7 linked regions of the Homo sapiens genome follow. The protein of the gene in region 6 purifies or fractionates together with the protein of the main gene of each other region. This does not show direct contact. Each region holds a gene or a part of one and is shown on either strand. Other genes may lie near its edges.

Region 1 (4,348 bases), on a different chromosome or scaffold from region 6:
AGACTGTCCTTTCTCCATTTTGTGTTCTTGATACGCTTGTCAAAAATCAAATGACCATAAAGGTAAGGATTTATTTCTGGACTCTTCAATCCTGTAAGAATTTTTTTTTTTTTGCTTCAGTAAAGCTCAGTACCTTTATTTCTGAACTGGTGATGATAATACCCTCCCAGTACTCTTGTGGAGAGTAGAGATTTTGTTAGTAAAATTTTTGCTGTAATGTCTTCCCCTCCATCCGTAACCTCAACTTGTGATCAAGGTAAGTATAGTTGGCTGTATATTTCATAAGGTCAATGACATTCCTTATTTTATCTACTGTGAAGTGAAGTTATTGAAATAAACTTTGCTTTGCTTTTGTTTGAAAGTTACTCTTTAAGTAGTGGTGTCACCACAGTAAATATTGTTATTTGGATTTCTTTGTGTTTATTTTATCACAGGTGATCCTTTCAAGGATGATCCTTTTGGAAAAATCGGTCAGTATCTTATTGAGTTTCATCTTAGCTTTCATTCATTTCTGCTTAATAATAAGCTTATGTTATTTAGGTCTGAAACTGAAGCCCCAGTAAGATGCTCTATGTGCCTGGCATTTTCAGAAAGAGAGTAGTAAATTCTTTTGATTTTGCTTAATGAATTGTTGCTTTACTTTTACTTCTTCTTTTTTTTTTTTTTTTTTTTTTTGGTGTTTTTTGTTTTTGAGACAGGGTCTTATTCTGTCACCCAGGCTGGAATGCAGTGGTGTGATCATGGCTCACTGCAGCCTTGACTTCCTGGGCTCAAGCAATCCTCCTGCCTCAGCCTCCTGAGTACCTAGGTCTACAGGCTCATGCCAGCATACTTGACTGATTTTTTTTTATTTTTTGTAGAGACAGGGTCTCACTGTGTTGCCGAGGTTGGTCTCGAACTCCTGGGCTCAAGCAGTCCTCCTGCCTCAGCCTCCCAAAGTGCTGCGATTACAGACAGGTGTGAGCGACTGTGCCCGATAGCTTTACTTTTTTAAAAATGACATTAGTGTTTAGACTTTGGTGCTTTAAATATTTATTCTGATTCCTCCTTACTAACTAAAGGTTTGGTGAGCATAATGATCTATACTGCTTCAGGGTTTAGAATGTAATTTTGTTTTCCTAAGATTATAGCCCACACGTGTGATTAGAGGCAGAGAATCTTGAAGAATTACTAAAACATCAGGCTTTTTGAGATATTCTTTTTCTGGGAATTTTCATTAGAATAATGCAAATCTTGTTTACCATTTAGTTTTGCATCCCAAACCTGTTCTAAACTATTGGCTGTTAGCTTTGAGCTCAGAGAGAAAAATACATTTAGAAGTTTTTATTGTGTTTTCTTTAGTTACGGTAGCGTAGAATAAGGGGACTTAAAATTGGATCCCTTGAAATTATATGTTAATTTTAAAAATAAGTTTATTAGGTGGAAGGTTCTGTATCTTTTATCAAAATTGCAAAGGAGTCTGTGAAATAAAAAGTACTCAGCTTAGATTCTACAGTATTTCAAACTGTCTTTTTGGATTTTTTTTTTGAGACAGTCTTGCTCTGTTGCCCAGGCTAGAGTACAAGTAGTGCGGTCTTGACTCACTGCAACCTCCGCCTCCCATGCTCAAGCTATTATTCTCATGCCTCAGCCTCCCGAATAGCCAGGATTACGGGCGCGCACCACCACGCCTGGCTAATTTTTGTATTTTTAGTAGAGACAGGGTTTCACTGTGTTAGCCAGGCCGGTCTTAAACTCCTGAGCTCAAGTCATCCGTCTACCTCAACCTCCCAAAGTGCTGGAATTACAGGTGTGAGCCACTGCACCTGGCCCAAACTGTCTTTTTGTTTGTTTGTTTTTGAGACAGGGTCTCACTGTCACCCAGGCTGGAGTGCAGTGGCAGATCTTTGCTCACTGCAGCCTCTGCCTCACAGGTTCAAGTGAGTCTCCCACCTCAGCCTCCCGAGTAGCTGGGACTATAGGTGCGCACCACCATGCCTGGCTAATTTTTGTGTTTTTTAGTAGAGAGGAGGTTTTGACATGTTGGGCAGGCTGGTCTTGAACTCCTGACCTCAAGTGATCTGCCTGTCTCAGCCTCCCAAAGTGGTGGGAATGCAGACGTGAGCCACTGCACCTGGCCCCAGACTGTCTTTTAATTAAGGCACTGATCATACCTTCAAGTGATGGGAAATTTAGTGCAATAATTTTTTTTTGTCTCTTATATTCGTGCCTTATTTTTTTAGATCCATTTGGTGGTGATCCTTTCAAAGGTTCAGATCCATTTGCATCAGACTGTTTCTTCAGGCAATCTACTGATCCTTTTGCCACTTCAAGCACTGACCCTTTCAGTGCAGCCAACAATAGCAGTATTACATCGGTAAGTGGGAGAATTAAAAACTGTTAAGTTAAATGGATAATAAGTGTCCTAAGCAAGTTTCTTGAAATACATAGTGATGAAAGAACCCTCATTTAGATTACTTCTAATGGACCATATAAGAATTTCAGTCTCATCCCAATTCATTTAGTTTTTGGTTCAGACTGGTATTTCATAGTTTGATTACCCACTGGAATTAACTGGAATGACTGAACGGAGTCCAAAAGTGATGTTCATCTTTCAAGAGACTAAATCTTATCCTATTGAGGATACTAAAAATGATTGGAAATTTATAAGCCAATCTTACATAAAACTTTTCTGAAATGTTTGGTATATTATTGAAATAATGAAAATTAAAAGAATTTTAGAAAAATAAAATCGTTTATGTTATTTCATAGACACATCTGGAATGTTAATTCTGCAAAGTACAAATTCTCACTAAATGTCAAGCTCTCTTGAGAATGTACATACCTACAGCAATCACTGTTTAATAACCACATGCCTGATCCAGGTACTGGTGTGTGCTTTACATTCATTGTTTCTAATCTTCACATCAATTTTGCAAAGTAGGTGTTGATATCCCTATTTTAAAAATGAGGACACTGGGACTTAGAAAAATTAACATGTTTAAGGTCCTATAGCTAGTTGCTGTTTTATCTGGAGGCTTTAAAAAAATCTTCATGGCTGGGCGCGGTGGCTCACGCCTGTAATCCCAGCACTTTGGGAGGCTGAGGTGGGCGGATCACGAGGTCAGGAGATCGAGACCATCCTGGCTAACACGGTGAAAACTCGTCTCTACTAAAAATACAAAAAATTAGCCAGGCGCGGTGGTGGGTGCCTATAGTCCCAGCTACTCAGGAGGCTGAGGCAGGAGAATGGCGTGAACCCGGGAGGCGGAGCTTGCAGTGAGCCGAGATCGCGCCACTGCACTCCAGCCTGGGTGACAGAGCGAGACTCCGTCTCAAAAAAAAAAAAAAAAATCTTCATCTTGTGGATATTTAGAAATACTCAAAGGAGAATAATGTAATGAAATATTTTAACAAGCTTCCATGCATCCATTACCCAATTTCAATAGTTAGGAATGGTTTTGCAGGTTTTTGGTTTTGCTTTTTAATTTGTATTTTGAGACTTCGTTTTTGAGACCACAGTTTCATGTCTGTAGGTAAACTGAACCTATAAAGGACCAGTTAACTGAGAAGCATTTGAAGCAAAAAATTTGTCTTCTAGTACTATTAGATTAAGAATATTTCCTTTAAAATGTAATTGATTATTTTAAAGATAATAGGTTTTGTATTATTGAAAGTTGCTTCTTTTTTGTATTCAGTAAAGAGCTGCTTGGCTAAGAACTGGTGTTTTCCATTGAATAAAAACTGGACAGATACCTTCGTGACTGAATATTTTTCGTTTCCCTGGGCTGCTGGATACTCTGTTTTCCTATAGCACTTAGTTTGCAATGTGGACCCATTTGCCAAATTCTTCTAAAATTGCTGCTACTGGAATTCTTCTCCTCTCACCTTCTTATTCTAGCCTCTCATTCTCCTATCATCTAAAGAGCAAGAAAGCTAAATTAGCTCTTCTAATTTAAAAATGAATACATTCCTCTTGTCCTGTCCCCCATGAGATTTTTCTACCATTTGTTTTACTGACTTTTATTCCCAGTTTTCTAAAGGAATATTGTCCTTGCTTTACAGCTTGTAATTTCACCATTCAAAACAAAAAACCAGATTGGCAATATAATAATAGCTGCAGTTTATCTAATTTCCTCTGTGTGCCAGGGATGGTGCCAAGCTCTTTATATGCATTGTCTCATTTACTTTTCACAGTAATCCTATGAGGTTTACGTAGGTTAAGTTGAGGCCAGGTGTGGTGGCTCCCACCTCTAATTCCAGCACTTCAGGAGGCCAAGGCAGGAGGATCACTTGAGGCAAGTAGTTCACAACCAGCCTGGGCAACAAAGTGAGACACTGTCTCTACAAAAAAATTAAAATATTAGAG
Region 2 (4,348 bases), on a different chromosome or scaffold from region 6:
GTAGCTGGGACTACAATCACGCACCACCACACCTGGCTAATTTTTGTATTTTTAGTAGAGATGGGGTTTTGCTATGTTGGGCAGGCTGGTCTCCAACTCCTGGCCTCAAGTGGTCTACCCAATTCAGCCTCCCAAAGTGCTGGGATTACAGGCATGAGCCACCACACTCGGCCCAAATGTCTGTTTTTATGAAAGCAAGATGTTGCAAATTCCAGCTTAAAATTGTTTTAATAGATTAGTATGCCATATTAATTTAAATGAATAAATTTTCTAAGGTAGTGCTTATGATGGTTCAATTCACTGTTACAAGCCTTGGGGTAAAGTGATAACCAGCAACCTGTGCTTTTGTAAGCAGCCATGGAGAACTCTTTATCACTTAGGCTCTGTCATGTCAGCCCTGGCCAACAGCTTAGAAGACTCTATGCAAGGTTTCAAGCCTTGACATGCAAGCTTCTAGTTGCCCTTTGGGGAAGCAGTGGGAATATTTACCAGCCACTTCTAAGAAACTACTGGAAAGGCAAGGCAAATTTCAGGAGCTTAATGCACTGTTAATATGTCTAGGAAAAAAAGGTGCAAACTTAAAACTTCTGATAAACAAATATAATTCCAGTGATTAAAAAGGAATGAGGCTGGGCATGGTGGCTCACATCTGTAATCCCAGCACTTTGGGAGGCTGAGATGGGCAAATTGCTTGAGCCCAGGAGTTTGAGACCAGCCTGGATAACACAGTGAGACTCTGTCTCTACCAAAATAATAAAAAAAATTAGGCCAGGTGCGATGGCTCACACCTGTAATCCCAGCACTTTGGGAGGCTGAGATGGGTGGATCATGAGGTCAGGAGCTCGAGACCAGCCTGCCCAACGTGGCGAAACCCCGTCTCTACTAAAAATACAAAAATTAGCCGGATGTGGTGGCGGGTGCCTGTAATCCCAGCTACTTGAGAGGCTGAGACAGGAGAATTGCTTGAAGTCGGGAAGTAGAGGTTGCTGTGAGCTGAGATGGCGCCATTGCACTCCAGCCTGGGCAACAAGAGCAAAACTCCGTCTCAAAAAATAAATAAAAATCAAAATAAAGGCCGGGCACAGTGGCTCATGCCTATAATCCCAGCACTTTGGGAGGCTGAGGTGGGCGGATCACCTGAGGTCAGGAGTTCAAGACCAGCCTGACCAACATGGAGAAACCCTGTCTCTACTAAAAATACAAAATTAGCCAGGCATGATGGCGCATGCCTGTAATCCCAGCTACTCGGGAGGCTGAGGCAGGAGAATCACTTGAACCCAGGAGGTGGAGGTTGCAGTAAGCCACGATCGTGCCATTGCACTCCAGCCTGGGCAACAAGAGCAAAACTCCGTCTCAAAAAAAATAATAATTAAAAAAAAAGAAAAAGAAAAAATTAGTCGAGTGTGGTGGTGGTGTGTGTCTGTGGTCCTACTTGGGAGGTGGGAGGATCACTTAAGCCTACAGTAAGCTCTAATTGTGCCACTGCACTCCAGCCTGGGTGACATAATGAGACCCTGTCTCAAAAAACAAACAAACAAACAAAACTAACAATGAGACAAAAGCTTTGCTGTCTCCCCTTTCTGAATCCCCCCTCTAAGCAACCCTCCTCATTTATGGCCCTCCGTGCTTTTAGGTTTTCCCCCATACCCTTCCTATCTTCCTCTAGCTCTAATTCCCAACTCTACCTCCCAACCAAACACAGGCAAAAGTGAAAGCATGTTTTCATCCACACTGTCTACTTATAAAAGAATTAAGCAGATAAAACTGGTTTGTGTATGGGAGGAGTGGAGGACGTATATAAACAAAACACTGCTTTATATAGATACACTGGATTACCCAGAGTCAATTTAATAAATTCAATGGATGATTTTTAGCAGGGTTATCTGTATTTTAGACCATTTTGCTAATTGTGGAATAAAAAAGCTAGAGATGGTACAATAATTGTTGGCATCATTCACAGTGAGAAGAGATATTTGGGAACAGGAAGTCTTTTGTGGTGTTCTCAAAATCACATCACGTAGGCAGCTGCTCCTACACACGGCTCTGAACAAGTCGTCTCACTGGATTTTGCATGACAGTATTAGTTATCATAAGGACAGGTAAGGTTTAAAATGCTTTATGTCCCTAAGATTTTACTACCTTTGACTACTTTTTAAAAATTTTTAAACTTTTTAAAAAAACTTTTGACTACTTATTTAAAGACTGATAGAATTACTCTATGAATCCACATGAGTTTCCATCTAACTTCCCAGTAGGATGACATTAGGCCAGATGTTAAAGCATGAAACAGGAGTACTGAAAGATTCTTAGAATGTGTTTGCATTTGAACGCAGGTCTATTATAAGGACAGAGCTACAGGTCAAGGAAGCTTGCTTATTCTTTCTCCTAGGCCTAGGGCAGAAGTTGTTGAAGAGTGACCTCATCCCCAACCAACAGCATCATCTGGGAACATTTAAGTGCAAATTCTTAAGTACCAACCCCAAACTCACTGAATGAAAAACGCTGGAGATGGGGCCCAGCAATCTATGTTTTAAAACAAGTCCTCCAGGTGATTTTGATACAGTAGAACTATTGGCCTAGGAGATTCAAACAGGCTGCCGGGCCACTATTTGACAACAAAATGGTTTTTAAGTTATTATCTGGAAACTCTTGAACTCCAGATTTTTAAAGTGTAGTGATAGCAAAATATACCCAGTTTGTGGTTTACTTAGGGTCTGAGAAACAGAAGACAAAAGCACAGTTTTGTTACTTCAACTCATTTCAAAGCACCTGTGTCAAACCAATGAAGGACAGCTTACACAATATTCGCTAAAATTTTTGGAGTAATGTGGCCCAGAACCTATGCTAAGTGTGCTTATAATCTTTATCCAATTTAGTATTCACAACCACTTTCTCCATTTATAGAAGTGTATACCAAGACAGAGAATGTTAAGTAACTTGCCCCAAATCCCACAGCTAGTAAGAACCAGAATCAGAACTGAAACCCATATCTGACTCAGAGCCTGAGCTCTTAGCATTTGTTTACACCAATGTCTCAAAGATCTTTAAACAATTTTGGTCAATTTTTAGACCATGGCCACTACTTATCTTCCAGATTAAACGTTGGCAAGAGCTTTACTGACCTGTAACCTTCACGAATGGCTATACTGCCTATTCTGTCTCGACACTTGCTGTACATACAGTTTGAGTATCTCTTTTCTGAAATGCTTGGGACCAGAAGTGTTTCTGATTTTAGATTTTTTTCAGATTTTGGAATATTTGCATTATACTTAACAAGCTGACATCCCAAATCCGAAAAGCCAAAATCCAAAATGCTCCAATGAGTATTTCTGTTGAGTGTCATGTCGGTGCTCAAAAAGTTTAGAATTTTGGAGCATTTCAGATTTTCGGATTTGAAATGCTCAACTTATAGTAAAATCATTGTCATTTAAAAGAGACTTGTCTTTCATGTTAAAATGCTGGGTAATTTACATAAAGAATGAAATTATTCTCTATTTTAAAACAAAACTTCTATCATGCAACAATTTCTAGCGTTGTTCATTCTACCGTAACTTAGTATTTCTGTTTAGTTTTTGTTTTTTGTTTTTTTTTTTTGAGATGGAGTCTTGCTTTGTCACCTAGGCTGCAGTGCAGTGGTGCAATCTTGACTCACTGCAACCTCTGCCTCCTGGGTTCAAGCGATTCTCGTGCCTCAGCCTCCTGAATAACTGGGATTACAAGCACCCGCCACCACAGCCGGCTAATTTTTGTATTTTTAGTAGAGACAGGGTTTCATCATGTTGGCCAGGCTGGTCTCCAACTCCTGACCTCAAGTGATCTGCCCACCTCAACCTCCCAAAGTGCTAGGATTACAGGCGTGAGCCACCGTGCCTGGCCTATTTTTGTTTTATTTTTGAGACGGAGTCTTACTGTCGTCCAGGCTGGAGTGCAGTGGTGCAATCTTGGCTCACTGCAACCTCTGCCTCCGAGTTCAAGCGATTCTCCTGAGTCAGTCTCCCAAGTAGCTGGGATCACAGGCATGCGCCACCACACCTGGCTAACTTTTGCATTTTTAGTAGAGACAGGGTTTCACCATGTTGGCCAGACTGGTCTTGAACTCTTGACCTCAGGTGATCTGCCTACCTCGGCCTCCCAAAGTGCTGGGATTACAGGTGTGAGCCACCATGCCCGGCCAGTATTTCTTTTTTCTTTTTTTTTTGGCCAGAGTCTTGCTCTGTCACCCAGGATGGAGTCAGTGGCACAAATCTCAGCTCACTGCAACCTCTACCTCCTGGGTTCAAGCGATTCTTCTGCCTCAGCCTCCCGAGTAGCTGGGACTACAGGCATGCACCACCACGCCCAGCTAATT
Region 3 (4,348 bases), on a different chromosome or scaffold from region 6:
AACAGTGAAAAGGAGAGTGTGTCAGAGAGAAATCAGGAGAAACGAAGGGCCACAGAACACTTTCCTCCCCTCTGAATGGCCTCTGCTGACCTTATAGCCCACGAGCGTTTTGTTCAGCTAGGATGTTGTCTCATCACGGATGATGCTGCCCTAAGCGGTGCATGTTCTCCAAGTGTGAGAGAAGTGATAGGGAAAAGAAAAGGCAAAATTGGTCTTTGTTACCTAGGCTGCCTTCCTCTTCTCTGGGATTCATCTTTGAGAACTGCGCATCACGTATTGTGATATTTTTACACAGAATTTAGGACTTGTAGCTCTGCATTTATTCATTCAACAGTTTATGGAGTTGCCTGTGAAGTGCCAGGTGCTGTGCTAGGCTCTGGGGGTATACTGTTAAACTAGATGCTAGCTTTTACCAACTGCTTTAAGAGATGGAAAATAGCCAGTTATAGTGGATTGGTAAATGCCATCATAGAGATAAACTTAGGGTGCAGTGGCCCCCAGTTTTAGGGAGCCCAGGATTTCTGAAGGAAGTGACTGAAGAGTGAGTAGGAGTTAGTGTGGTGGCACCATGGGCAAAGACAGAGTAGCGAGAGAGAATGTCACGTAAAACTGGGTCTGGCTATGCGCCCTTTTTGTGTTCTTTGGCTTAAGTTGAGTTTGAATTTGTGGCTCTTAGAAGTATGTAGATATGTAGGAGCCAGTATACAAAGTATTTATGTAGCACCTACCAAGTCCAAAGACCCTATGAAGTTCTGAGATGGATGAGGGAGGTCTATAGTGTGATTGACATCTGCCTTTAAGGATCTGCCAATGAATTTGGGAAGATGAGGCATACATTCACACATACAGTAGCATGGTTACCAGCACTGTCTGTAGAGTCAGACAGATCTAGGTTCAAATTCTGGATCTGTTCTTTACTAGCTGTGGAACTGTAGGCAAGACATTCCAAACCACTCTTGAATCTCTGTTTCCCTGTGGCAGTGGTTCTCAAAGTGGGGCATACTTATCACCTGCGAGCTTGTTGGAAATGGAGATTCTCAGGCCTCACTCTGTAGGCTGTGGGTGTGGGGCTTAATAAGTTCCTGGAGAGATTCTGACGCAAGGTCAAGTTTGAGAACCACTGCTTAATGGGCTGGTCATGAAGATTAAATGAGGCAATATATATAATTAACATTTTCAGGTGTTCAATAAATGGTAGCCATTACTTACCAGCAACGTTATACATCATATGTATATATGTGGGGGGGGAGAGAGAGAGAGAGAGAGAGAGAGAGTGTGTGTGTGTGTGTGTGTGTGTGTGTGTGTGTGTGTGTTAAAGGGGAGTGGGAGCAATGTGAAAGCTAGTTGAGCTGCAGCAATCTGAAGCAATTCCTTTCCCCCATTGTTAGGGGACAGAGCCAGATGTTCTTTGCAGAGTCCTCACCAGCTCCTTAAAGGCTTAACAGACGTTTTGGGTAGCCATGCTCCTTCCCTGGACTCTCTTCTCTGTGAGTCCCCGAGTGCTGACTTATCTACAGTTCTAGCCAGAGTTGTTTAAGGACCACAGGAGTTGTACCCTGTGTGCCCAGAGCGGTGGCTAGGCAGTTTAGGGAGGAGTGGTGTGAGAGGCTTCAAAACACAGACCAGATTACCACCACATTCCGCTGATGATCTCTTTTTCTCTAGCGTGGGTATTGGTCTGTGCTTTTTCATAAGGAATTGCAAGAACCCCAAGGAGCAGGTGCTGGGTAAGACAAAAAGATGTCGCACTGCCATACCTCCCCTGGTAGCATCAGCCTTCCTGGCCTGGTTTCACTAACTAGTCCAGCAGGGGCTGTTTGGGGGAAGTGAAGGCTTTAAGTTATGAGTTTAGAGGAATATGGCTATTTCTAGGCTGGGTGCCAGGGAGAATATTTTCTTTCTAGCTTTCTCAGCAAAGATGCCATGATGAGAAGCTAAATCATGTCTAAGTTAATGGGCATATGATATCAAGGGAAGATTTGGTTTAAGCTTCCAGAATGAGCTCAATGGGAAAATTGGAGCAATGTTCAAAGAAGGATTGAGAAGCTGTGCTTTTATCATACTTCCTTAGCTATACGAGGACTTATATCTAAGCTTTAAACAATAAATGTTTATTTATTACTGTGTTGAAGACAACATTCTGGAACTATAAGGTGGACTAGATGGCTCCTCAGAACAGCTTTCTAATTTATATTCAAGGAATCCAGGTCCAAGGCTGATGAGAAGTACCAAATGTCCACATCAGTAAACTTTGATAATTTCTCCTACCTACAGAGCAAACTAGTAAGGCTTAAAAATGTGTGTGAAATCACCAAAAATTCCATTAAAGGCACATAATATGTTGGTGGTATCAATATGATACACGTACGTGCCTCTTTGTGGCAGGCACTGTATTAGGTTCCAGAGATCCTAAGATGAATGGGACACAGGCCTGACTCTTAACAGAGCTCAACACCTGAGATAAGTGTCCAGCACTTAAGCGTGGCCTTTGACATACATACCTTAGATGGTAAAAGATGTTATGATAAAGAGCCTGGGGGTGAGAGTTCATAGGTGACATGAAGTTTGAACAGGAATAGAAATTGCCCAGCAGATGTTCCAGATGGGGGTTACTCAGGACCTCTCAGGCTGAGAGAATAGTATAGGCAAAGTGGTGAAACAGCATGATAAATTTTGAGAATACTGACTAGTTTAGTGTTACCATTTTCATCAGTACACATTTCCTCCCCAGAATCAAGGAAAGAAGGACAGAGGACACGGAGTGGTAGAATGAAATTCTTTAAGTTGCTCCCTGGAGGTGCTTGCTACTCACTTTCTTCAGTGGCCCTGGGCCTTTTGAAAGACTGATGAATAGGTACCAAGAATGCACGGCTCCCCTCCTGTGCCTCAGCCCCGTGCCAATTGTGGGGAAAGGGAGCAGCGAGTGTCTGGGGAAAGAGTGGTCCCAGAAGGTTTGATAAGAGGCTAGAAGCTTAAGCAAAAGCAGGCAGGGAAGGGAAATGACCAGTGTTACCGAAAGGTATGAACAGGGGAGATATTGAAGGTGTTTGACCAGAGCAGAAGGTACATTGGAGAGAAAAGGAAGGACTAATTTTATGGAGAATCTTGAGTGCCAGGCAGAGAGATTTAGTTATAAGCACCTGAGACCTTCTCTTGACGCAAACACCAATTTGATCCCTCCCACTTCAGATGTCTTTGCCTGCTGGGAAGTCTGGTTTTTTAGAGGCAACTGCAGATTTTCAGGGGGTGGTTTGTGAATGGTGTCTTCTTCCTGGCTTTGGGCATGATGACGGTTGTAGCTTTGCTAAATATAGCCAAATCTAGAATTCAGAAATGAAGTCCAGAATAAGCAATTGCCATGGTCAAACTCTTTCTTTCAGTCTTTCTAACAAAGTAAAGCTCATTTAATAACAAATAATGATGAAGAGAGAGCAGCAGTTTCACGTGACTTTTGAGTGGGAGGGTATGAGGGGAGACATACACTTGTACCCTGGTAGCTAAAACGCCATGTAGAGTACACAAGAAAGGTTTGATAAATATTAACAAAACACACAAAAAATATTACTGCATCAGAGCCGTCATTTTAACTTGCAATATTTGAATGTTGACGCTTCGGAAAGGGGACTAGTACCACCTTCATCTTGCACCCTTTCAAGGATGCATGCCTTCTGAGCCTACTTATGAGGTAACTGTGACATCCGCATCTGAAAGAGAAAAAAATGATAATAATAGAAACGTATTGTCTATTAAAGTAGCATCTAGCACTGTGAGCTAGCAGAGACTTGCCTCCGGTCTATTTTATGGAGCCATATTTTGGTGTGGTGGAAAGAACACTGCATTATGAATTGGGAGATCAAGGTTTGTCAGTTCATTCACTCCCTTATTCAGTAAATGTTACTGAGCATTCATTATGTGCCAGGCATCATGCGGAGATAAATGAGACATGGCTGTGCCTTGAGGACCTCACAGTCATAGGATTTCAGATATGTGAGCAAATAGCTGCAGATGCTGCGCTGGAGTCATGTAAAAGAGCTGGGGAACAGACCCAAGGCAACAATTTTGTGGGTTGGGGAGTAGTCAGGGAAAGCTAAAGAAAGGTGACATTTGAGGTGTGTCTTCAAAAATGAGAACTTATTGCTAGATGGACAAGGTAGAAGAACATTCTAGGCAGAGAGAATAACATGGCCAAAGACACAAAAGCAGAAAAATAACTGCTTACTGGGGAGCTGTATGTTTTGAGATAGCGATAATCTACTAGTGGCCCAGGGCTGTGCTGTTCAATAAAGTAGCCCACTAGCCACATATGGCTATTTAAATTATCTAAAATAGGCCGGGTGCAGTGGCTCAT
Region 4 (3,710 bases), on a different chromosome or scaffold from region 6:
GCCTTCTCACCTGGGGCTCTGTGGGCACTGGGGCTGCTTCTGAAAGCTGGGCTGCTTCTTTGCTTTCCTTTGCTTCCTCATCAGCCTGAGGGCCATCTCGCTCCACAAGAGGCATTTTTTCCAGGATGGCAGCCCTGAGAGGATGGAATGCAAGTGTGCCTCTGTGTGGTCTCTGGGCCTTTCACAAGAGGCATCTAGGATGAGGACTAGGAATATGGAGCCCTGGGCACATGGTGGCTCAGAAGTACCCTTCTGATTTCCTAAAATGACATGTTGTTGCTGATTTTCAGATGAACAAGGAGGGTTGGAAGCCAGCTTAGCTTCAATTAACAGTGGGTGGGAAGCTCTCACCGTGGATATGGAAGAACACAGGTGAGGATGAGGCCCTTGTACCTAGAAAAGGGCATTTGGGAGAGGGCAGGGGTTTGGGTCCCATGCTGCAGCACAGTGCTGGACACACCTCATGTGGTCGTATTTCCGGAAGAGTGTGTCATACTCCACAGCCCGCTGCTGCAGCTCCACGTCCAAGCAGCTCCCGTAGATGGACACCACCTGGCGGATGCGGCTGGGCCAGTGTAGTATGTAAGTGGCTATGGCAGTGTGCCACTGCAGGATGTGGCAAGAAGGAAAGGCCCACGGAGCAGGGAAATACCCAGATTTGGCTCAAAAACAAGAACCTAAGGGCTAGGGGGTAGGGAGGGCTGGGCATGTATGCCTGGAAAGAAACTCAAAAATGGGTGGACCCAGTGACAGGCCATCTCTCAAGGGGCTGGGACCCCTTCTTACTTGTTGTCCCCACAGAGGCGAGTGCTGAGCTTCATGAGGGCTGTGAGGGCATATCCTCGAGTGGCTGGCAGGGACATGTGGGACTGCAGCACCTTTTCCAGCAATGCCAGCACTTCCTCTTCGTCCACCTTCAGACATGGATACAGTTAGTGGCCCTGGTGCAAGTCCTGTCCCCCTGACAAGTCCCTCCTCAGTGTACCCCCAATGAGGTCTCACCTGAAGGGGCTCAATCTCCTCGCAGTTCCCTGCCAGCAGGAGGTCCCCATACTCCCCAATGCACCAGGCTGCCACCTGCACCAGTGGTTGCTACATGGGATAAGAAACTGCTGGGCTGGCCAGGCATGGTGGCTCAAGCCTGTAATCCCAGCGCATTGGGAGGCTGAGGCGGGAGGATTGCTTGAGACCAGGAGTTCAAGACCAGCCTGGGCAACAAAGCGAGACCCCCCCCATCTCTATTTTAAAAAAAAAAAGAGAGAGAGAGAAAGAAAGAAACACTGCTGGGCCAGTGTCTGAGGTCCCCTCCTCACTTCCAGACCTGGCAATATCCCTTTAGGCAGTGCAGAGATGGTGGGGGGTTGGAGGAGTGGGGAAAGGGAAGTTTGTTACCTGGCTCCCACTGCCCTCTGGTGGCCAAGCATCAGAACTACATGGCCTAACCAAACAGGATGGAAATGTGAGAGGGTCCCTCCCTTGTGGAAGGGGTGGATGATGCTTTCTGCCCACCCTATTTAATTAAGATGGAAAAGGGGGCTATAGATACTGGCTGGCATCTGTTAATTCATTCAGCATTCAAGGTAATAATAAAACCTCATAAACACAAGAGCTTTAATCTCAAGGCAGCTCTAAGAGGCAGTCAGGGTACATGGAGCATAAGGGAAGTTAGTCATCTGTAGTTACATAACCAGGAGGTACCAGAGTCAGGACAAAAGCCCAGATGTTCTTAAAAACAGGGCTCTGTGCTCAGATGTCTTCTGCACTGTGTAAGCAGCTGTGACCTTGAGAGAAAAATTGGAATCTAGTAGGGAGGAGGTGGCCCAGGATGGGCAAGGGAGTGGTTGGGCAGCCCTGGGCCTAGGTAGGTGGGAATGGTACCTGGGAAATGTCTTCTGCCAGGGCATTGTAGAGGCGGCGCACAGAGTAGGCATGTAGCTCCTGGGCCCCCCCAATCAGCTGGGTCAGGTTGGCCACTGCATCATCCCGCACATGGGTGCCCGCCTGGAAGGTGTGGGCATGGCCAAGTCAGTGTGGTGAATCTTGACCACTTCTGCCCAGCTCTCTGACTGGCCCCTGCCTCACCGTTGTCAGCACATGCAGGATGGTGTCTATGTGCCAGCGTTTGGTTGGAGCAAACCTAGGGGATATATGGCTCATCAGTCCTGGTACTGACGCTCCCCAGATTCTACCCTCTTCGACTCCTGGGCACCTCACCTCTCTGCAGCCAGCAGGATGCCTGAGGCACAGTCAGCCCGTAGGTCAGGAGGGCAGGACTCCAGAAAGGCCTGCAGCTCTTGCATCATGGCTCGCACATTGGAGCTATTTACCAGAGCCAGGCTTAGTTCCAGGGCTCTCCTGGCAGGAGAAAGAGGTTTCCATGCAGGTAGCCCAGGTCATCCTGGTCCATGCCTCAGGCCCTCTGCTTCCCCAGGGACCTGTCCCCCTTAGTCCCCTTACTCCAGCTGCTCTAAACTGGCTCGAGTCTTGGCCACAGGGCACTGGGAACCTCTGCCCTGCCCTCCTGTCCCCTCTATCACTGCTCACCGGCTGAGGGAGGCATCAGTTTCCCGTAGACATTCCACCACAGTGGGCCGATGCCGCTGCACAGCACTGTGATCAGACTGCACCAGTCGAAGCAGTGATGTCAGGGCTACATACCTGGTCAGGATGGGGGAGGTTCTATCATACCATGGCCATCAGCCCCCACTCCCCGTCCTGTCCTGGGTATAGGGATAAGATAAGAGAGAAATGGATCAGGAGGCTCTGGAGGAAGGAGGGCAGAGGGCCAGGGGATCAGTGGCACAGCCTAGGTAGACAGTTGGGACTATTACCTAATGTTCCTGTCACTGTTGAGTAGGAAGCGACCAAGAATGTTGACAGCTAGAACCTATGAGAGGCAGAAGTTGGGGTCAGTCGGAAAGGAGCAACCTGCTCAGCCATTGAGGACTGGGAACACATTGGCGCAAGATGATGGGGCTAGGAGGGAGAAACCAGCAAGCAGGACCTGTGTGGGTGAGGTGGTGGGCGGGGCCGTAGTGGGAGAGGCATAAGGGGTGATACCCGTAGGCCAGCTGCAGAGCGGATATCCATGATGGTGAGTACTGTCTCAAACAGGACCGCATTTCCGGCATTTCGGCTGGTGTCCGTGTTAGTGGCCACCTGAGTGGATGAGAGAGGAGATGTATCTGCTCAAGGCCCTCCTCAGGTCTCCTTTTTTTGATACAGGGTCTCACTCTGTCGCCCAAAGCTCACTGCAGCCTTGACCTCCCAGGCTCTGATGATCCTCCTGCCTCAGCCTCCTGAGTGGCTGGGACTACAGGCACATGCCAACAAGCCCAGGTAATCCTCAGGATTCTTGAAGGACTCCAACATGTTATCTGTCCATCCTTCAACCATCCAACAAAGTTCCCTGAGGCTCTACTATGTGCCAGGGCCAGCCTGGGCACTGGGGCAATAGCACTAAGACAGACTGTGTCCCTTCTTCATGGAGTTCACTGTCTAGAGGAGATGGAGAGGCAATTACACGGCCACTGCACAGTGACGAGTCATGTGAGGGGCACCCAGGGCTGATGGGGTCTCCAAGCAACACAGCTAACCAGTGCCCTCCCAGGCCCCACCTGGGCCAGCAAGTCATTCATGGTCTCACTGCTCTCCTCGTGGTTCCGGCCCAGGATCCGAAGCAGACGAAGTATCTGGACCTGAGGTTGGGT
Region 5 (3,106 bases), on a different chromosome or scaffold from region 6:
CCGGCCTACAACCTTTCCTCCTCCACCTATTATACTTACCATGCAATTTTTGTGTCTTAGCAGATACATTCTTCAATGCCATAAAAAGCTGATCTTTTTAATACTAACATTTTACTGACGTGATATTAAAATAAGCAAATGGTCCACTTTTTAAAGGATTATTCAAAATCAACAAGCATTATTAAAGCTGTTAAGAAACAACTTTGGCCTCAAGATTTTTGCTAGCTTCATAATAATTTACTTCTCTTAGTGATGTTCAAGTATAACAGGTTTAGTTATAACTACATCCTAAAGAAGCACAGGGGACACCCAAATAATATTAGGGAAAAAAAACCCCAAATATATATATATATATATATTTGCTTAGTGGTACATATATAATAACCTTTCTTCCTTCCTTAAACCAGAATTGAACCATCCCATAATAGAGCCAAACTTTTATTGAGTGCTGTGTGCCAGGTACTGTGTTAAGCACTTTCACATATCTTGGGAGCTTTATTCTCATAATTCTCACAAGGGAATAACCTGAGCATCAGCTGTGTGGAGTGACCTACACCTTGACCATGATTCTGGGGGATGATGAATGAAAATGCAAAGTATAAATCTATACTCCTTAGGAAAATGCCTCTACTACAACACAAAGGAATCTCTCCATTTCTATCCTATTGAACCCCCAATTGAATCCTGTATCTTTTCTCTGAGCTACAATCTTGAAAGAAGAAAGTCACTGTGCTGTGTTATAAGAATGTAAATATTTTATGCTGTCAGTTGTTTCCTCAGAATTTATAAGTCAAAGGGTCTACATCAGTGTCAGAATCATTTAAAATTATTCAGTGTATTGAAAAGCAAGTAAAACTCTAGGTATTTCATGTTTACATCTGAAGGAGACATTAGTTCATCCTCTACCCCTTTTCTAAATGATGAAACTCATGAGGTCTAGCAGAGACCAAGGACTAATACAATCAAGAAGCATATTGTGTACACCTCAACAGATTTTCATTAAAAAAAATTGTTTGATACAAACCTACTGTAGTTCATGAATTTACTATGTGTAATCATCAACTCTTCACTTTTAAAAGAAAGTATCACTTGAATCTATTTTGTAAAGTTTTTAAACATCTACTTGAGCATTTGCATTAGCAGTATTAATCAACCTGAGAATCAGAAAAAAAAAAAAAGGTGCAAACATATTTGCCTTTGGCACGAGGACAAGTAATTGGTGCAGTCCAGCTCTAAATAATAATGTAATGCTTGGTCTGCCTCTGCTACATTGTGATTCACATATTGCTTCCCTATCCACAAATCTATATTTGATTTAGCATATAAAAGAAGGGAAAAAGCAATAAAAAGACAAATATGTGGTTTAGTTACATATACTTTGCTTCTTTCCAAGTTCAGAACTGTGAAAATAGGCAAATAGCTTATCCCATTGGGGCACTATAAGAGATTCCTAATAAAATTACTCGTAAAATATACTTTGAGATCGAAGAGAGTTAATTTAAAATATAAAAATCAAAGAGAGTGCCAGTTGATGAGTTTCTACTCCTTTCTGTAAATAGCATTAACTGTTCTAGAAACTTCCAAATGTTAATCTGATAGCGCAGCACAATTATATCTTAAAATAGTCATAGACACAGGAAGCACAGATACTATATTCACATTAATTCACATATGTAATCTCTATCATTAAATGATTTCTATAAAACCTCAAGTTTCTAATTAGGATTTGTGGTGTAAAAAAAGGCAAATTGGTAGCTGGGTTCTTTTCAGTAAAGACACAATCAACTAGCAGAATTAAGATGCTAGTCCACCTTATATGCATTTTAGGATCTGGTATATTAGTGCAGAGGTACTTGCAGCAGGATGCATGAATCCTGCCTTTATATAAGGCTTTGTGGGTGTCACCATTCTGTGCACTTTATTAAAACTACTCCACCCCCCAAAACCTAATAAAAATAATTGTTGCTTATGACTTGGGGAATATTTGGTGAAGTTGCTAATAAAGTACATTGTTAAATGCAACATGATTTCACATTGTAAATGTCTTGAAAATTCAGTTTCCGCTACATATTTTCTTCATAAAATAAAATTTTTATACAACCCTTGTCCTCCAATTTTTCCAATAATCTGCTTTATTAGGGCCATCACAATAAAAGTTTGGGGCAAGAAGCCATGCATAAAGTGTTTCTAAAGTAGTGAATGTTTTCTGTTCTGTATCTTTTTTTCTTCTTATAATTTCTTTACAAATGTCAGATATTTCTCTTCATATTTTTGTTCTAGGCTTCTGTGCGACGATAGTCCATTTTTTTAATTTGTTTTAACTGACAAAAATTATATATATTTATCATGTATAACATTGTTTTGGAATATGTAAGTTGTGGAATAGTTAAATTGAGCTAATTACACATTATTTCATATGCTTATCATTAGATATTCCATTTTAATGGCACTTGTTTTTAAAAATGAAACAGAGTTTTAGGCACAATAGTCAGTTACTTCTGGCTCTGCTTTGTGGAGAAAGGTGTATGGACTGAAATCTCTGCACTCTCCAGATAATAACTTTCTAATGCTTTAAGATAACTAGATTGTTTTTAACTGTCTGGAAATTAAAAGAGACCTTAAAAAAAATTCACAAGTGTAACTAGTGTATGTAGAAATAACCCTAATTTTAGGGATATGCACATAAAAATGACATTCTGATATCAAAAATAACAGTTTCACTGTCCCTTCTCAGTGGCTACACACCTAGAAAGGTGCCATGTGCTTTCACTGGAAGTACCACACTTGCATTTCTGTGTTGTGATGTCAGTAGCAGAAACCCTTAGTTAGAGCTTGCAATTTAGCTCCCTTTTCTCCTGAAGAGGAATCAAGTTACTACCCTGTAGAGATACTTCATTCTTCTATTTGGTTTATTTAGAAATCACCTATTCTGACTGATCTTTAAGAATGAATGCTATAAAGAGCTACCAAATTTTCTTTCAAATTCATAAAACTGTTCACACTTTTTTGAAACAGGAGTTAATGCCGAGAATCCATCAGAAGTATCTACTGTTTAGAAGGAAATGGAGCAGCACCAAATGGGTCTAATTCGACTGGTTGGGACTGT
Region 6 (4,267 bases):
AAAATATACTTACGTTGTCTATTCTTTCTCCCCCTATAAATTCCCTAATGTAAATGGGGGTAAGGATTTTGTCCATTTTGTTCACTATCATATTCCTGACTCCTAGGCTGGTACCTGGCAAACAGGTGTTCAATAAGTAGCTGAATGACCAGTGCTCAACTCTCTTCTTGGGCAAATTTCATGTTTTGTAAACCAACCTCTGCTAGAGCAGCTTCTCCATGTTCCATTCACGGGGTTATCCAGGATCAGAGATACATCTGCTCTGATTGTCAAGCTATTCTAACTATACTGAAATTGAACATGCCAGACCCCTAGCACATTTACAGCCAATAAATGGAAGTTAAGTGAATAAATTATGAGAGAGAGAAGAAATGGCAAGGGTAGAAGATCAGGTGGCAACATCTCCAGTGGGAGAAACGTTCAGTGAGGCCAAGTCACTCTCACCTGCTCCCATAGGTATCAGCTCAGAGTGACAGAGCTGCAGAAGGTGGGGGGCTCTGGCACAGGATATAAGTACCAGGTCCTTGCCTCCAGGCCCACATGCCTTCTTTGTTCCTCTAACAGCCAACTCTTCACTATCTCTACCCTTGCTGATCCTTCTGCTTGGATTATCCTCTCCTAACTGCTCCAATTTATCCTTCAAATCTCAGCTTAGATGATCTCATTTCAAAGATAACTTCCCTTCAGCGTGATACCTCTGATGCTTAAAAAAAGAAACAAAAAAAAAATACCTTTCCTACATGTACTATCTTTTTTGTTGTTGTTGCTAGAGACAGATAGTCTTGCTCTGTCACCCAGGCTAGAGTGCAGGGGTGTGATCATAGCTCACTGCAGCATCAAACTACTGGGCTCAAGCAATTCTGCTTCAGCCTCCTGAGTAGCTGGGACTACAGGCGTGTGCCATGCCCAGCTAATCTTTTCAAGTTTTTTGTGGAGTCTCGCTAAATTATCCAGGCTGGTCTTGAACTCCTGGCCTCAAATGATCCTCCCACCTCAGCCTCCCAAGTAGCTGGGATTACAGGCATGAGCCACGGCACCTGGCCATGCATGTACAACCTTAAGAAGGTATTTCTCTGTCCACATCCTTCAGTGTTCTTATTCATACATTTCCTGAGCATCTTTCGTGTACCAGAAACACTTCTACATGTTGGGAATGCAGGAGTGAAAGAAACAGACAAAAATCCTTCCCTACATGGAGTTTATGTCCTAATGGGGGAAAGAGACCGTAAGCAAGATAAGTGAGTAAAATATATAACATCTTAGATAGTGATAAACACAATGGAGGCAAAAAAGAGGAGGGAAGGAGGATAGGGAGGGGAGAGGGGAGGAAGGGAAGTTAAAATTTAACTAGGGTGGCCATAGAAGGCCTCCTTGAGAAGGTGACAGGTGACACTGTCTGCGAAAGAGCCTGCCAAGCAAAAGAGATCGCCAGTGCAAAGGTGAGTATGTGCCTGGCATGTCTGAGGAACAGAAGGGAAGTGAATGTGGCTGAGTGAGCAATGAGGAAAACAGTGGGTCAGGAAGTCACAGGAGAATGCAGGGGGCCTTATGATCAAGCGTGAGGTCTCTGGCTTTTACTGAGTGAGCTGGAGCCACTGGAGGGTTTTGAGCAGAGGAGTCCTGACATCTGACCTATATTTTAATAAGTTCTGGCTGCTATGCCTTTTGTTTCCCTTGTGGCTTATTGGTTTTTCTAATCATTGCATTTTTTTCTCTACTTCTTTGTCTCTCTCTCCCATTAAAATGAAGTAAGCAACTAGAGGGCTTATCTGAAGCCTGAAGCCATATCTGGCCTGTTGACCTATCAGCATAGGCCAGCACCAGGCATTAGCAGGCCTCGATAAATACTGAATGAATACTGGACTTAGAAAGTCTCTGTCCTCAGTGTCCCAGCAGCCAGCCACCCAATACTCGGAGATCGGGCAATGAAGACCACCACAGCAGCAGACCCAAGGCTGGCTCTACTGAAATTGTGTTATTCTGCTCCCAATAGGCTTAAGATCCTAAATGTAAGGAGGGTGTGGTAAAAAGTATCTACCACCCAAGTCTATTCCTCTATGGAACTCAGCTACTGAAATGCCAAAAATGAACACTGAAGGTTCAGTTTTAAAGCTTTTGAGACCTGGGCCGGGTGCGGTGGCTCACGCCTGTAATCCCAGCACTTTGGGAGGCTGAGGTGGGCGGATCACAAGGTCAGGAGATCGAGACCATCCTGGCTAACACGGTGAAACCCCGTCTTTATTAAAAATAGAAAAATTAGCCGGGCGTGGTGGCGGGCGCCTGTAATCCCAGCTACTCAGGAGGCTGAAGCAGGAGAATGGCGTGAACCTGGGAGGCAGAGCTTGCAGTGAGCCGAGATCACGCCACTGCACTCCAGACTCCGTCTCAAAAAAAAAAAAAAAAAAAAGCTTTTGAGACCTGACTTTCAAACCTACCACCTTCCAGCTCCGAGTCCACAGGGTAGACTGTGGTAATTGGTGGTAACCTGGGGGATCAGTGACTAAGGCATCCCAGTAACTGATGAATTCTGGGCCTTGTGGGGTCAACCCAGAGTTAGGCCACACTCATACCACAACTAGGAGAGGCCTCCCTTCCTGACAGAGGTCAGAGGTCAAGTCCAAGGCTAAAGACCCAGACAGCATGAGGTGTAGGAGTGTAGAACCATAGCCAAGTCCTTCCTCAGCTCCACTATATAAGAGGGGACAATCTAAACACAAGGAGTGGGTAGGTGAAGGCAGCCATTGCAGGTAGGACAGGGGCTCTCCCAGGTTCTACAAAGCAAACAGGCACAACTGCAGCACAACTGTAAAATGGGAACTACAATGTTACATGCCTGAAGGGTTTGTGAGGCTAAAACAAGTCAATACATACCTAGCCCTTAGCAGTGCCCGGCCCACAAAATGCCTGATAAATGTTAGCCACTATTACTACTACCGAGAGAGAGAGAGTTTACCACTTCCCTGCTCCGTACCAGATTCCCAGGTCTCTGGAAGCCCTGAAACACCCTGATGGCTGTCTGGTGGTACCAACTGTAGTTTGAAAGTAGTCTCAGCACTGATCAGATTTCTCCCTGTCTCTATGAGGTGACATGAGGATGGACAGGAGATAATCTAGAAAGTGCTTTGAACCCCTTAGGAGTCAAGGAATCCTAACAATTCAATGCAATATTCATTCATTCACTCATTCAACACCTGCTGAGCACCAACTATGTACCAGACACCTCACTAGGTGCTGGAGACGTAGTTAAGGCAGGTCTTCGTCAAGGATTAAAAGCTATTTACTGGCCAGGCACGGTGGCTCAAACCTGTAATCCCAGCACTTTGGGAGGCCGAGGCAGGCGGGTCACTTGAGGTCAGGAGTTCGAGACCAGCCTGGCTAACATGGTGAAACCCCATCTCTACTAAAAATACAAAAATTAGCCAAACATGGTGGCAGGTGCCTGTAATCCCAGCTACTCTGGAGGCTAAGGCATGAGAATTGCTTGAACCCGGGAGGCGGAGGTTGCAGTGAGCCAAGATCGCGCCACTGCACTCCAGCATGGGCGAAAAAGCGAGACTCTGTCTGGAAAAAAAAAAAGAGCTATTTACTTAGAAGAGAGCCAAATAAACAATCACAACCCACTGTGACCCTTGCCAGAGGGCATCAAGGAGGGGCATCTAGCTCAGACCTAGGGGTGATGATCAGATGGGAAGAACCAAGTAGCACTCCAGCTAGGCAGGTAAGGTTGGGAGAGCAGGAAATGGTGTTCAGGCAGAGGGAAGAGTGCAAAGCAAAGACAGAGAGGTATAAAGAGTTGGGAGGCCAGGTGTGGTGGCTCACGCCTGTAATCCCAGCACTTTGGGAGGCCCAGACAGAAGGACTGCTTGAGGCCAGGGGTTTGAGACCAGCCTGAGCAATATAGCAAGACTCCATCTCTACAAAAAATAAAAACAATTTGCCAGGCACAGTGGCACCCATCTGTAGTACTAGCTACTTGGGAGGCTGAGGCAGGAGGATCGTTCAAGCCCAGGAGTTGGAGCCTGCAGTGAGCTATGACAGCTCCACTGTACTACAGTCTGGGTAACAAGCCAAGATCCTGTCTCGAAAAAAGAAAAAGAGTTGGTGCTTGCAGAAGTAGCAAGTAGCTGAGGTTGACTGGAGCTTGGGAAAAGGTGAGTGTGGAGCAGGAGAGATGACAAAAGAGAGCTAGGCAGGGGTCAGAGTCCAAAGGGCCTTGAATGCCATGCTAAGGAATGTGAGTTTTAGCCCGAGGGCAACTAGGAGCCAC
Region 7 (4,348 bases), on a different chromosome or scaffold from region 6:
TGCCCATTTGAAAAATGGAGATAATATCTCCTAACTCATAAGGCAGAGGTTCTGAAAGTGTGACCTGGGTACCCCCAGCAGTCCCCAAGACTTTTACTGGAGGTCTGCAAGGTCAAAACTATTTTCATAATAATACTAAGATATTAATTTTCCCATTTCATTCTCATTCTCACAAGACTACAGTGAAGTTTTCTTGTGTCTACATAAGCTGAGATAGTACAACAGATTGAACACAGATGCAGATAGGAAAGTCCAACTGTCTTTGATAAGCCCAGACATTAAGGAGATTTGCAAAATTGTAAAACAGTGCCATGCTTTTCACTAATTTTTTTTTTGCTTTGGAAAAATATTGTTATTGGTCATAAAAATGTTATTTATGTTTAATGTGTAATAGGTTTACTATTGTTTTTTCTTTTTATTTATTTATTTTTGAGACAGGGTCTCTGTGTCGCCCAAGCTGAGTGCAGTGGTGTGATCACAGCTCACAGCAGCCTCAACCTCCTAGGCTCCAGCAACCCTCCTACCTCAGCTTCTTGAGTAGCTGGGACTGTAGGCATGTCCCACCATGCCCAGCTATTTATTTATTTATTTATTTTGAGACAAGGCTTGTTCTATCACCCAGAGTAGAGTGCAGTAGCATGAACATGGCTTACTGCAGCCTCAACCCAGTGGACTCAAGGCATCCTCCTACCTCAGCCTTCCATGTAGCTGGGACCACAGGTGTGTGCCATCATGCCCAGGTAATTTTTTGATTTTTGTATAAATGAGGTCTTACTTTGTTGCCTAGGCTGGTCTTGAACTCCTGAACTCATGTAATATTCCCACCTTGTCCTCCCAAAGTGCTGAGATTATAGGCATGAACAATTGGGCCCAGTGGAATTTTTTACTTTTTGTAGAAATGAAGCCTACCTATGTTGCCCAAGTCGTATTATTTTAAAATATGTTAATATCTATTTTTTCATTTTAATTTCAAATACAATAAATATCAGTGGATATAACCCACATAAACAAAAAGGTCTTTGGGATTGGCAGGCGGATCACCTGAAGTCAGGAATTTGAGACCAGCCTGATCAACATGGAGAAACACTGTCTCTACTAAAAATACAAAATTAGCTGGGTGTGGTGGCGCATGCCTATAATCCCAGCTACTTGGGAGGCTGAGGCAGGAGAATCGCTTGAACCCGTGAGGTGGAGGTTGTGGTGAGCCAAGATCGTGCCATTGCACTCCAGCCTGGGCAACAAGAACAAAACTCCATCTCAAATAAATAAATAAATAAATAAATAAATAAATAAATAAATAAAAAGAGTGTAAAGGCATCCAAAAAGTTTCATAATCACTGTCCCGGAGTTTAACAGGTACCATAAGTGAATGCGTGTGAAGGCGCTTCAAACAGCTTTGCCATTGTAAATGCTCAGTAACCATCACCTCTCCTCTGTTATTACCTTCAAGTTGTAAGAAAGAATTGGCGGCCCTCGCTAGTGCCCAGCTGCTCTGAGACCTTTGTTGAGGCTCACTGTGTAACTCCCTGTCTTTCCTGCTGCTTCATTCCTGACTTTTGCTGACTTTTATGCTAGGAAACTGGTAGATGCTTACTGGCAGATCTAGGCACCTAGTACTTTACACACAGAAAATGGTTCTTGATTCCATGGTGCCAGTGACCCTGGTTTCTGGCACAGAGATTTCATATCTGGTGCATGTTGGGACTGTGTTTGTATCTGGATCACACTGTTTGAAGCAACTGTGTACTCCATCTCACCTTTTAGAAATCTCTACCTTGGAAAACAGTGTTAGGGCTATTGCACTTCAGGAATCCCACGAGCTGAGCCCAGTGTGTTTAAAAAGGCTTATGGGGCAGAATGTACTGTTGAATGGTTGGCAATGAAGGAGGATTATGTTGTTTATGTATGTATGTATGTATGTATGTATGTATGTATGTATGTATTTTGCCTTTAACAAGATAGCTGTGGGGATGTATACAGTGACATTTGAAATGCTTTGGGGGTACTTTTAATAAAAGCACAAGTGGACTTTGATGTATGTAGTCCATGTGCTTCTGAAAAGTTGAGGTGACACAAAACCACATTGTGAACAAAACAGTAGAGCCACCCATTGAAAGAAACTCAAATGTTGATCCCTTTGGAAACATGAATAACCGTCTTTTTGTGTTGCAAATTCCGTTCTCATAATGTATGTTATTTATGTAAAGTAGGATAGATTTATGCTAAAAAAAAATCAAGGATTTTTTTTGGGTGTACGATTTAAAATCTGACTTGAGAGAATTTACCAAACAGAACTGGAAAGCCATTTCTTATTCAGAAGATATTTAAGTTTGAAATAGTAGGAGTACACCCTTCTCCTAAAAAAAAAAAAAAAAAAGAAAAAAGAAAAAAAATTCCTTTGTTCATTTTAATCTCAGGGAGTTGTTGAGGGTGAGGGTGGAAAAACCGAACTATGAACCTGTAGGTCCTGCCACGCCCCCTTCCCCTTCTGTATCAATTTTATGTTCTGAAGCTTGAATGAATTGTAATAAGCATGTAATGATTTTGGCAATTTAAGTTCCAGTTTGAGGGTGAAGCGGTCTATTACACTAATGAGTGCTTTCCTCCTCGGAGACTTGGTCTAGGCTGCTGGCCAGCAGTTAGTGTAAGATCGAGGGCTTTGGGATCAGGGGAGAAATGACCCTTTGTGGTGTTCAGTTGTCCCAAGAGGGCTCTCCTCCACTGGCCCTTCCCACAGGTCTCCCAAAAACACCAGTGAGACTTGTATTTACTCCTCACCAGGATTGTTACTACCGAGTTTCTATCACTCGTTTTGTTTGTTTGTTTGTTTGTGGTGAGTATTGTCAGCTGCTGATAACTTTTGTGTGGCATTTTGCCAACAACAGCTGTAAGGAAGCAGCACACTGTGTATTTGCTGAACGGTGTTGTCAATGTCTGCCCTTTTGGGTCCCGTGAATTATTTCATTTTAAGACATAATGATAAAATTACTCCCCTTTCCAACACACACACACACACACACACACACACACACACACACACACACACACAGAGAGAAAACTCCTTTAATAATCCCCAGAATAAGTCCTTTTTTTGATTTTTTTTTTTTTGAGACGGAGTCTTACTCTGTCTCCCAGGCTGGAGTGCAGTGGCACGATCTCTGCTCACTGCAAGCGCTGCCTCCCGGGTTCACGCCATTCTCCTGCCTCAGCCTCCTGAGTAGCTGGGACTACAGGCTCCCGCCACCATGCCCAGCTAATTTTTTTGTATTTTTAATGGAGATGGGGTTTCACCGTGTTAGCCAGGATGGTCTTGATCTCCTGACCTCGTGATCTGCCCGCCTCAGCCTCCCAAAGTGCTGGGATTACAGGCATGAGCCACCGTGCCCGGCCAACAGAACAAGTACTTCTTGATGTCTTCATGAATTGTCCTTTTGATATTGTTTTGTTGTTACGATAGCCAGTGTTTCTCCCAGAGACCTGAAACTTCACTGTGGTTCTGTGGTTCATTTCTTCCCTGGGGCCTGTCTTTTTCTCTCTCAGAGTCTCCCTTTCTGGTATACCTAGTTTTCCCCGATACTTTCTCTGTTTAACCTGAAGTATCCAGGAAAACTCCCTTTAAACCATTTGAAGCTCCCCCATAATCTATGACATGAAAGAATGTACACAAATGTCAGAGGCAAATGCTCCTAAATTCTCTCAGTGGCATATGAAACTATCCAGCCAGCACCCTGACTAAGGAAATGTATTTCTTGACCGGGCACGGTGGCTCACGCCTGTAATCTTAACACTTTGGGAGGCCAAGGTGTGTGGATTGCTTGAGTCTGGAAGTTCGAGACCAGCCCAGGCAACATGGCGAAACCCCATCTCTAGAAAAAATACAGAAAGTATTAGCTGGGCGTGGTAGTGCACCCATGTAGTCCCAGCTATTTGAGAGGCTGAGATGAGAGGATCACCTGAGCCCAGGAAGTCAAGGCTGCAGTGAGCCATGATTGTGCCACTGCACTCCAGCCTTGGTGACAGAGTGAGATCCTATCTCCAAAAGAGAAAGGGGCCAGGGTTGGAGGCTCATGCCAGCACTTTGGGAGGCTGAGGAGGGAGGATTGCTTGAGCCCAGGAGTTTGAGACCAGTGAGACTCAGTCTCTATTAAAAAGAAAAAAAAATGTATTTCTTGTATCGCTGCTAGCAATAAGGTAAATTAAAAATCTTAACAATGAAAAGGGGATACTGAAAATCATTCAAGTTAGAAATAGAATGTTATCGACAATCATGAGGAAACTGGCCTCTGCCAACATCCCTCTTCTAAAAACTTTCCTACAGGCATCTCTGGGCTCTGAAATTCCTGGCTCT

Evidence for each region.
Region 1: the proteins of AP1B1 (region 6) and EPS15 purify together in Homo sapiens (affinity purification with mass spectrometry; 3 studies listed by BioGRID and IntAct, with this or other methods). This does not show direct contact.
Region 2: the proteins of AP1B1 (region 6) and NUMB purify together in Homo sapiens (co-immunoprecipitation; 2 studies listed by BioGRID and IntAct, with this or other methods). This does not show direct contact.
Region 3: the proteins of AP1B1 (region 6) and AAK1 purify together in Homo sapiens (affinity purification with mass spectrometry; 2 studies listed by BioGRID and IntAct, with this or other methods). This does not show direct contact.
Region 4: the proteins of AP1B1 (region 6) and AP1G2 fractionate together in Homo sapiens (co-fractionation; 3 studies listed by BioGRID and IntAct, with this or other methods). This does not show direct contact.
Region 5: the proteins of AP1B1 (region 6) and BMP2K purify together in Homo sapiens (affinity purification with mass spectrometry; 2 studies listed by BioGRID and IntAct, with this or other methods). This does not show direct contact.
Region 7: the proteins of AP1B1 (region 6) and AP1S3 purify together in Homo sapiens (affinity purification with mass spectrometry; 2 studies listed by BioGRID and IntAct, with this or other methods). This does not show direct contact.

Annotation. Positions count from the first base shown.
Region 1 is NC_000001.11:51,397,040-51,401,387, reverse strand, and holds part of EPS15 (epidermal growth factor receptor substrate 15), read left to right. Parts: intron 1-434; coding exon 435-470; intron 471-2,222; coding exon 2,223-2,356; intron 2,357-4,348. UniProt on the Homo sapiens protein: Involved in cell growth regulation. May be involved in the regulation of mitogenic signals and control of cell proliferation. Involved in the internalization of ligand-inducible receptors of the receptor tyrosine kinase (RTK) type, in particular EGFR.
Region 2 is NC_000014.9:73,287,505-73,291,852, forward strand, and holds part of NUMB (protein numb homolog), read right to left. Parts: intron 1-4,348. UniProt on the Homo sapiens protein: Regulates clathrin-mediated receptor endocytosis. Plays a role in the process of neurogenesis.
Region 3 is NC_000002.12:69,636,980-69,641,327, reverse strand, and holds part of AAK1 (AP2-associated protein kinase 1), read left to right. Parts: intron 1-4,348.
Region 4 is NC_000014.9:23,561,502-23,565,211, forward strand, and holds part of AP1G2 (AP-1 complex subunit gamma-like 2), read right to left. Parts: intron 3,699-3,710; coding exon 3,618-3,698; intron 3,340-3,617; exon of another isoform or gene 3,226-3,339; intron 3,160-3,225; coding exon 3,061-3,159; intron 2,888-3,060; coding exon 2,832-2,887; intron 2,721-2,831; coding exon of another isoform or gene 2,663-2,720; exon of another isoform or gene 2,659-2,662; coding exon 2,545-2,658; exon of another isoform or gene 2,356-2,544; coding exon 2,215-2,355; intron 2,138-2,214; coding exon 2,083-2,137; intron 2,002-2,082; coding exon 1,879-2,001; intron 1,782-1,878; coding exon of another isoform or gene 1,704-1,781; exon of another isoform or gene 1,598-1,703; intron 1,093-1,597; coding exon 1,003-1,092; intron 915-1,002; coding exon 787-914; intron 607-786; coding exon of another isoform or gene 591-606; exon of another isoform or gene 576-590; intron 566-575; coding exon 461-565; intron 373-460; exon of another isoform or gene 135-372; coding exon 11-134; exon of another isoform or gene 1-10.
Region 5 is NC_000004.12:78,911,973-78,915,078, reverse strand, and holds part of BMP2K (BMP-2-inducible protein kinase), read right to left. Parts: coding exon 3,046-3,106; 3' UTR 1-3,045. UniProt on the Homo sapiens protein: May be involved in osteoblast differentiation.
Region 6 is NC_000022.11:29,381,304-29,385,570, forward strand, and holds part of AP1B1 (AP-1 complex subunit beta-1), read right to left. Parts: intron 1-4,267. UniProt on the Homo sapiens protein: Subunit of clathrin-associated adaptor protein complex 1 that plays a role in protein sorting in the late-Golgi/trans-Golgi network (TGN) and/or endosomes.
Region 7 is NC_000002.12:223,830,837-223,835,184, reverse strand, and holds part of AP1S3 (AP-1 complex subunit sigma-3), read left to right. Parts: intron 1-4,348. UniProt on the Homo sapiens protein: Subunit of clathrin-associated adaptor protein complex 1 that plays a role in protein sorting in the late-Golgi/trans-Golgi network (TGN) and/or endosomes.